2 separate regions of the Homo sapiens genome follow, and region 1 is linked to region 2. Evidence: fine-mapped expression QTL. A gene starts in region 2. The other region holds a variant in brackets. All regions are shown on one strand. Distances are between the middles of the regions.

Region 1 (4,368 bases), 980 kb before region 2:
GCATGGGACCCACCACCCCCGACAGCCGCCCCCGGCTTAGAGCTGCCGCCTGTCCCCACCACCGCTGCCCAGCCTCGGCCATGGTGCTGAGCCTCCTGGCCGTGACCCTCGGAGGCCCCGTCCTCTGCGGCATGTCCATGGACCTCCCACTATACGCCTGGCTCTCCCGTGCCAGGGCCACCCCCACCAAACCCCAGGTCTGGCTGCCAGCTGGAACCTGAAGTTGTCAGCTCAGAAAGCGACCTTGCCCCCGCCTGGGTCCCTGACAGGCACTGCTGCCATGCTGCCTCCCCAGGCTGGCCCCAGAGGAGCGAGCACCAGCACCCGACGCCTGGCCTGCCAGGGATGGGCCCCGTGGAACCCCGAAGCCTGGCGGGAGAGAGAGAGAGAGAAGTCTCCTCTGCATTTTGGGTTTGGGCGGGAGTGGGCTGGGGGGAGAGGCTGGAGCACCCCAAAAGCCAGGGGAAAGTGGAGGGAGAGAAACGTGACACTGTCCGCCTCGGGCACCGCGTCCAACCTCAGAGTTTGCAAATAAAGGTTGCTTAGAAGGTGCTCAGTCTGTGGCCTCCTCTGGAGCAGGGTGGGCCCGAGGCCCCAGGGCTCAGGTGGTTTCTGCTTGGGGTCCCCGGACATCAGTCCATGGAGAATGCAGCCGGCCACGGAGAAAGAGTCCGCCCAGGCCCAGGGACCCCAGGCAGTGGGAACAGCAGGGAATGGCCGGGGGTCAGCAGTAATGTCCAGCCCCAGAACATGGCTCACCATGGCCCAGAATCCTCTCCTGCGGTGATTCCTTTGTTTTTTTTCTTGTTTGTTTTGAGACAGGGTCTCCCTACGTTGACTAGGCTAGAGTACAGTGGTGCGATTGTAGCTCACTGCAGCCTTGAACCCTGGCCTCAAGCAATCTTCCCTCCTTGGCCTCCCAAAGTGCTGGGATTACAGGCGTGAGCCACTGTGCCTGGCCCTTTCCTCCCTCCCTCCCTTCCTTCCTTTTCTTTACTTCCTTCCTTCTTTCCTTCCTTTCTTCCTTCTCTTTCCTTCCTTTTTTAGTAGAGATGGGTTTCACCATGTTGGCCAGGATGGTCTCGATCTCCTGACCTCGTGATTCGCCCACCTCGGCCTCCCAAAGTGCTGGGATTACAGGCTTGAGCCACCGCACCTGGCCCCTTCCTTCCTTTCCTTTTCTTTCTTTCTTTCCTTCTTTCTCTTTCCTTTTTCTTTCTTCCTCTTTCTTTTCTTTTTCTTTCTCTCTCGCCTTCCTTTCTTCCGTTCTTCCTTCTCTTTCCTTCCTTTCCTTTCTTTTCTCCCTTTTCTTCTTTACTTTCTTCTCTTTATTTCCTTTTTCTTTTTTTTCTTTCTCTCTCTCCTTCCTTCCTTTTTCTTCTCCTTCCTTCTTTCCTTTCTTTCTCTTTCTTTCCTTTTCCCTCTCTCTGTCCCTTCCTTCCTTCCTTCTCTCTCAACAATATTTTTTTTTTTGAGACAGAGTCTTGCTCTGTCGCCCAGGCTGGAGTGCAGTGGCACGATCTCGGCTCACTGCAAGCTCTGCCTCTCGGGTTCATGCCATTCTCCTGCCCCAGCCTCCTGAGTAGCTGGGACTACAGGCAACCGCCACCATGCCTGGTTAATTTTGTTTTTCTTTTTGTATTTTTAGTAGAGACAGGGTTTCACCATGTTAGCCAGGATGGTCTTGATCTCCTGACCTCGTGATCCACCCACCTCGGCCTCCCAAAGCGCTGGGATTACAGGCGTGAGCCAACACACCCAGCCTAATTTTTGTATTTTTAGTAGAGACGGGGTCTCACCATGTTGGCCAGGCTGGTCTCAAACTGGCCTCAAGTGATCTGCCCGCCTCGGCCTCCCAAAGTGCTGGGATTACAGGCATGAGCCACC[G/A]CGCCCAGGCTGAATTTACAGTTTAAACAGGCGAATTTGGCCGGGCGCGGTGGCTCACGCCCGTAATCCCAGCACTTTGGGAGGCTGAGGCGGGCGGATTGCCTGAGCTCAGGAGTTTGACACCAGCCTGGGCAACACAGTGAAGCCCCATCTCTACTAAAATACAAAAAAAAATTTTGACGGACGTGGTGGCGGGCGCCTGTAGTCCCAGCTACTCGGGAGGCTGAGGCAGGAGAATTGCTTGAACTCGGGAGGCGGAGGTTGCAGTGAGCTGAGATCACGCCACTGCACTCCGGCCTGGGCGACACAGTGAGACTCTGTCTCTAAAAAAACAAAACAAAACGAAATAAACAGGAGAACTTTATGGTATGTAAACTGCATCTCAATAAAGCCCCTGAGAGAGGAAAAGGGCCCTCTGCTCTTTCTGCCTTCCCAGGCATCAGCGGAGAGGAAAAGGTGACCTCCAGCACCGTCCCCGAGGTGGGAGGACCCGCCTTGGCCGGAAGTGGAGGCGCCGCGACCGCCCCGCCCCCGCTGTGTTCCGGCCGCCGAGTGCTCATGCACCACCAGGCTCCCTTAGGTGGACAGCAATTTTGTGCTCCCGTCAGCCACATGGGTGGCGTGTCCCCTAGTGCCGTGTTCCCCTTTTCAGAAAGACGAGCCTCGGATGCTTTTCTACCCAGCCAGTGGAGCCTGGACTCGAACTCGCTCTCATCGTAGCGCGTCCAGGTTCGGGTTCGCCTGAGAGGCTGAGATCCGAGTCTCAAGGGCACTATCCCTTTAAGACGGGGCGGAGCCCCGCGATGAGCGGCGGGCCGGCGGGAGAGGAGGCCGGAAGTGTGTGTCACGTGTTCGGGGACGGGGCGGTGCTCCGACCGGAATCGGAAGTGGCTGCGTCGTCGACGCTGGGCTTTCGGGTCCCGCGCCCAGGTGGGAAGAGGCCGGCGACTGGGGTGACCGCGGGGAAACTGAGGCAGAGGTTGAGCCAGACCCTGAAGCCTTGGCCACCGTGTTTTTGGGCGGAGGGAGGGTCAGGGCCTGGGGCGAGCTCAGAGGGGCGGGACAGGGCGGGCTTCCCCGGGAGCGGGACCGCGACGGGTGCGTACGAGTTCGCTGGGCGGGAGGAGCAGCCCGGGCAAGGGCGGAGAGGTGGACGCCCCGGTCAGCGCCCCCTTCCCCGCCTTCAGAGATGGGCTCCAAGGCAAAGAAGCGCGTGCTGCTGCCCACCCGCCCAGCGCCCCCCACGGTGGAGCAGATCCTGGAGGATGTGCGGGGTGCGCCGGCAGAGGATCCAGTGTTCACCATCCTGGCCCCGGAAGGTAGGGGGAGCCCGGTCCCGGGGAAAAGCGGACCTGAGACCCCGGCAGCAAGGGGACGGGAGAGAAGCACACCCCTAACTCCTGACCCCACGCCCTGGGAACCCCCGCAACATGGGCACGGTCCGTATCCTCTCCGAGTCTCCCTCTACTCCTCCGTAGAGTGGGACCGATTTTCAGAGGGTTCTTCTGACAGGGGTGGAGGCCGGGCGCTGTGGTTCAGGCCTGTAAGCCCAGCACTTTCGGAGGATGAGGCGGGAGGATCGCTTGAGCCCAGGAGTTCGAGACCAGCCTGGCCAACATGGTGAAACCCCGTCTCTGCTAAAAATGAAAAAACAAAACAAAAACAAAAACAAAAACAAAACAGAGTTAGCTGGGCATAGTGGCAGGCGCCTGTAATCTCAGCTACTCGGGAGGCTGAGGCAGGAGAATCGCTTGAACCCGGGATGCAGAGTTTGCAGTGAGCCGAGATCGCACCACTGCACTCCAGCCCAGGTGACAGTGCGAGACTGTCTCAAAAAAAAAAAAAAATTACTGGGTGTGGTGGTGGACACTTGTAGCCCCAGCTTCTTGGAGGCTAAAGTGGGAGGATACAGCCTAGGCAACACAGCCAGACTGTGTCTCAAAAATAAATAAGTGGCCGGTGCGGTGGCTCACGCCTATAATCCCAGCACTTTGGGAGGCCGAGGTGGGTGGATCACTTGAGGTCAGAGGTTGGACACCAGCCTGGCCAACATGGTGGAACCTTGTCTCTACTAAAAATACAAAAATTAGCCGGGTGTGGTGGCATGGGCCTGTAATCCCAGCCACTCAGGAGACTGAGGCAGGAGAATCACTTGAACCTGGGAGTCGGAGGTTGCAGTGAGCTGAGATCACGCAACTGCACTCCAGCCTGGACCACAGTGAGACTCTGTTTCAATAATTATAATAATAATTAATAAATAGAAATAAATAAAGTAAAACAGAGGTGGTAAGCTAGGGCCCCCCAAACCCTGCCCCTGGCTGTTTTTTTAAGGTCTGGGAGCTATGAATGGACTTCACATTTTTAAATGGGGGTGGGTGAAAAAGAACATTTCTGACACCTGAAAGAGGTATGAAATTCAGATTTCAGTGTTGGTAAGTAAAGGTTTACGGCACACAGCCAAATGATTCACATACGGTTAGT
Region 2 (4,368 bases):
GCAGGGAGAAGGAGAGCGCGTTGGGGTCCACGGGCGTGACTTTGTGGGCCGTACAGGCCACCTCCGGGTCACCAGGCACCAGGGCTGCTGGGGAGACGGTCAGCTGGTCCGGGAAGGCTGTGATGGAGGGTCGGGGGTGAGGGCTGAGCCCAGAGTCAGGGCTGGACGTGATGGAGGGGCCGGAGCCCGGAGGGGCTTGGAGCTGGGGCCAAGGATGCGTGGGGGCTGCTGATGAACAGGCAGTAGGGACGGCCTGTGCGCAGGCCCCGTGGCCCCACCCTGGGAGGCTGGAATAGACAGGAGGATGGGCCAGGGCCGGCCCTGGGAGAGTTGGGGTGAGTTGGAGGGAAGCGAAGGCCGGGGACCTGGCTTCGGGGAGCTGTGCATGGAGCTGGGACCCTGCCTGCAATCTGGGAGGCTTCCAGGAAGAGGTGGCATAGGGAAGGAGCCGGGAGTCCAAGGGTCAGAGAGGCAGGGCGCGGGGGGACGCCTCACCGTACACAAGGAGCTGCACGGTGTGCTGGAAGGTGCGGCCCCCGCAGGAGCCCACGCACACGCGGGTCCCGGCCGCCGACAGCGAGGCGTTGCGCACGGTGAGGACGCTGCGGCCCGTGTCCGACTGCACCGCGCCCAGGCTGGTGTCCAGGCCCCGCCACTGCACCGAGGCCCCGCGGTCCGCGCAGGCCAGGCGGCAGGTGAGCTGGCGCGAGGCGCCCAAGGCCACGGCCACCACCGGCTCCGGGGGCTCCACCTGCAGGGGCTTCACCTGGAGGGACTGGCCTGCGGCGACCGCGGCTCTCGCTCAGCCCCGCGGAGTCCCGGACCCCGCCCCGCCACCGGCCCTGCGTCCCGCTCCACCCCCGGACCCCGCCCCGCCTCTGCCCGGTTCCCGGACCCTCCGCTGCACCCCCGGACCCCTGCCCCGCCGCTACCCGGACTCCCAGGCTCGGTCCCTGAACCCCGCCCCGACCGCCGCCTCTGCCCCAGTCCCCCGAACCCCAGCTGCCTGGAGCCAGTTTCGCTGCGGGTCAGGGGGCCGCGCGGAGCCCCGCAACTTCCCCTCTCAGCCCCTGCCTCCTCCGAGCCCCCTCCTCTGGCAGGATCACCAATCACCCCCTATCTCGGAGCCCCTTAACTCTGAGCACCCCTCGTCTCTCCCGCGCCCCCTCCGAGCCCCTCCTCTCTCCTGCGCCCCCTCTTAACTCCCTCCTCTCTCCCGCGTCCCCTCCCCGCTCACCGCGCCCCTTCCTCTCCCCCGGGCCCCCTCCCCTCTCCCGGGCCCCCCTTCTCTTCCGAACCCCCTCCCCTCTCCCGAGCCCCCTCCCCTCTCCCGAGCCCCCCTTCTCTTCCAAACCCCCTCCCCTCTCCCGCGCCCCCTCCTCTCTCCTGAGTCCTCTTCACTTTACTGCGCCCCCTGCTCTCTCCTGCGCCCCCTCCCCTCCGCGCCCCTCCTCTCTCCTGCGCCCCTTCTCTCTCCTGAGCCCCTTCTCTCTCCTGAGCCCCCTCCACTCTCCTGCGCCCCCTCCTCTCCCCTGCGCCCCTCCTCTCTCCTGCGTCCCTCCTCTCTCCTGAGCCCCCCCACTCTACTGAGCCCCCTCCCCTCTCCTGAGCCCCCTCCTAACTCCCTCCTCTCTCCCGCGTCCCCTCCCCGCTCACCGCGCCCCTTCCTCTCCCCCGAGCCCCCTCCCCTCTCCCGCGCCCCCTCCTCTCTCCCGCGCCCCCTCCACTCTCCTGCGCCCCCTCCTCTCTCCTGCGCCCCCTCCCCTCCGCGCCCCCTCCTCTCTCCCGCGCCCCCTCCTCTCTCCTGCGCCCCTCCTCTCTCCTGAGCCCCCTCCACTCTCCTGAGCCCCCTCCTCTCTCCTGCGCCCCTCCTCTCTCCTGCGTCCCTCCTCTCTCCTGAGCCCCCCCACTCTACTGAGCCCCCTCCCCTCTCCTGGGCCCCCTCCTCTCTCCCGGGCCCTCTCCTCTCTCCTGAGCCCCCTCCCCTCTCCTGAGCCCCCTCCTCTCTCCTGAGCCCCCTCCTAACTCACTCCTCTCTCCCGCGCCCCCTCCCCTTCTCACCGAGGAGGAGCCCCAGAAGCCCCGCCAGCAGGAGGGCCAGTCCGAAATCCATGCTCAGTCCCCTCTGTCCCGAGGCCGCGGGGAAGCCGCTTAAATAGAGGCGCCCACTCCTTCCCGCCGCCCGGCGACCCCGCTCCAGCTGCTCCCCGGGGGCTTCCCAAGGGGCTTTCCTGGCCTGACCCCCGACCCTGGAGGCGGCAGAGAGGCAGGGGCTGGGGGCCAAAGATGGGGCGGGGTCCCGGGGCCACTCAGGACGGGCAGGCAGGAAGGTCTGGGTCTGTTCCAAGCCTCATATTCAGGCACGGGAAGATCGCAGACGGAGGCCGGAGGGTCGAGGTCAAGTGCATGGAAGTGGGACAGAGGCTGGGCAGCGCCGCCCCCACCCCGACGGCGGGTCCCCTGCACTTTCTTTTCTTTTTTTTCTGAGTTTCGCTCTTGTTGCCCAGGCTGGAGTGCAATGGTGCGATCTCAGCTCACCGCAACCTCTGTCTCCCGGGCTCAAGCGATTCTCCTGCCTCAGCCACTCCAGTAGCTGGGATTACAGGCATGCGTCACCACGCCTGGCTAATTTTGTATCTTTAGTAGAGACAGGGTTTCTCCATGTTGGGCAGGCTGGCCTCGAACTCCCGACCTCAGGTGATCCGCCCACCTCGGCCTCCCAAAGTGCTGAGATCACAGGCGTGAGCCACCGCGCCCGGCCCGCCTGCACTTTCCCGGGCGGCCGCACAGGGGCGGTGGAGAGCAGCCCTCCCCCGTTCCGGAGCTGCAGGCCGGGTCTTGTTGGCTGGGGTCCCCTGGGGGTCAGGTGAAGGTCGCTGGGGATGGAGGCCCCCTGGACTGAAGTCTCCTGGCCGTGGTGGAGCTGTGAGACCCTCCAGGACGTGGGACAAGTCACCCCATCTCTGAGCCTGGCTTCCTTCCATCACACGGGCAGAGGCCGCCCACCTAGCAGGCCTGGCTGGAGCCTGGGAGCCCGAGTAGGGGCTGCCTCTGTTCCTTGGTCTACACTGAGACCTGGATCTCGGTCCACAAGAGGGATCTGGAAGGGATGCTGGCTGGACTCCCACTCACAGCTGCCATCAGCGAGTCCTGGGAACCTCATCTTCCAAACGCACTGGAATCCACCCACCTGTTCCTCCAAGCCCCGCACACTGGTTCTGTCTCCGCTGGTGGCTTGTTTACCCCCCTGCATCACCGGGACCCTCCCAGGGCCTCTGGGACTCTGCCCGGGCTGCTCCTCACCTTACCCAGGTTCTGCCCACCCCCTCACCCCCTCGCCCCCCACCCTCCTCCGCTGTGGTTCCCAGGGTGCTCTGCTCCTAGCTCAATGAGGGCCTGTGGTGGCAGTCGTGATGGCTGGCTCCCCTCCACCCAGGGGCCGGTCCTGTGACCCTGGACCCCATGCACCGCAGGCACGCGGGAATAAAATGATGGAGCATTCCTGCTGACCTCAGGGTCTGTCTGTGCCTCAGTTTCCCTGGCCATGGAATAAAAAGCAGCAGCCAGTCCATGGGGTTCCAAGCATTGCCAATCGGCTTACCTGTCAGAGGAGGGAAACTGAGGCCCAGGGGCAGGGCTGGGACCAGAGGAGGGAAACTGAGGCCCAGGGGCGGGGCTGGGACCAGAGGAGGAAAACTGAGGCCCAGAGGAGGGGCTGGGATCAGAGGAGGGAAACTGAGGCCCAGGGGCGGGGCTGGGACCAGAGGAGGGAAACTGAGGCCCAGAGGAGGGGCTGGGATCAGAGGAGGGAAACTGAGGCCCAGGGGTGGGGCTGGGACCAGAGGAGGGAAACTGAGATCCAGGGCAGGGCCTGGGTGCAAAGGAGGGAAACTGAGGCCTAGGGGAGGGGCTGGGTGCAGAGGAGGCAAAATGAGGCTCGGGGGAGGGGCTGGGTGCTGAGGAGGGAAACTGAGGCCTAGAGGAGGGGCTGGGTGCAAAGGAGAGAAACTGAGGCCTAGAGGAGGGAAACTGAGGCCCGGGGTGGGGAAACAGTCCCCTCAGAGGTGAGGGCCCAGGTGTGTGAGCTCACAGCCCTGTCTCCCTGGGTCCCATCCCCCTCCTGCCCAGGCTGGTGCCGGGAAAGGCCTCACCGGAAAGCAGACTCCGAGGAGGGGCCCTCCCCAGGCCGGAGGTGCAGGCCCTTCCCGGGAAGCTGGGCCCTTAACCCGGGCGGGGGGCAGCAGGCCTGGTGAATGGGCTGTTTCCCAGCCCCCGACCCTACTTCCTGCAGGTGGGGAGGGACCACTGGGCGCCAGGAGGGCTGAGGCCCCTTGCAGGGTGTGTCCCAGCTCTCCAGGGCCCTGTCCC

What was found. PIP is the estimated chance that this variant, and not a neighbour inherited with it, causes the effect.
Region 1: its variant is fine-mapped to the expression of MADCAM1 in adrenal gland (GTEx, PIP above 0.99).

Annotation. Positions count from the first base shown.
Region 1 is chr19:1,477,612-1,481,979 of GRCh38, reverse strand. It overlaps C19orf25 (chromosome 19 open reading frame 25), which reads left to right and starts at 2,765. Exons shown (of 3, transcript NM_152482.3): 1 at 2,765-2,817; 2 at 3,075-3,206. The coding sequence starts at 3,077. PCSK4 (proprotein convertase subtilisin/kexin type 4) reads left to right here. Exons shown (of 15, transcript NM_017573.5): 15 at 1-552. The coding sequence ends at 221. RefSeq lists enhancers at 2,599-2,718, 3,080-3,580 and a silencer at 2,939-2,988. The variant G/A (reference allele first, on the strand shown) is at 1,888.
Region 2 is chr19:494,245-498,612 of GRCh38, reverse strand. It overlaps MADCAM1 (mucosal vascular addressin cell adhesion molecule 1), which reads right to left and starts at 2,127. Exons shown (of 5, transcript NM_130760.3): 1 at 2,062-2,127; 2 at 496-780; 3 at 1-117. The coding sequence starts at 2,113. RefSeq lists a silencer at 2,760-2,809.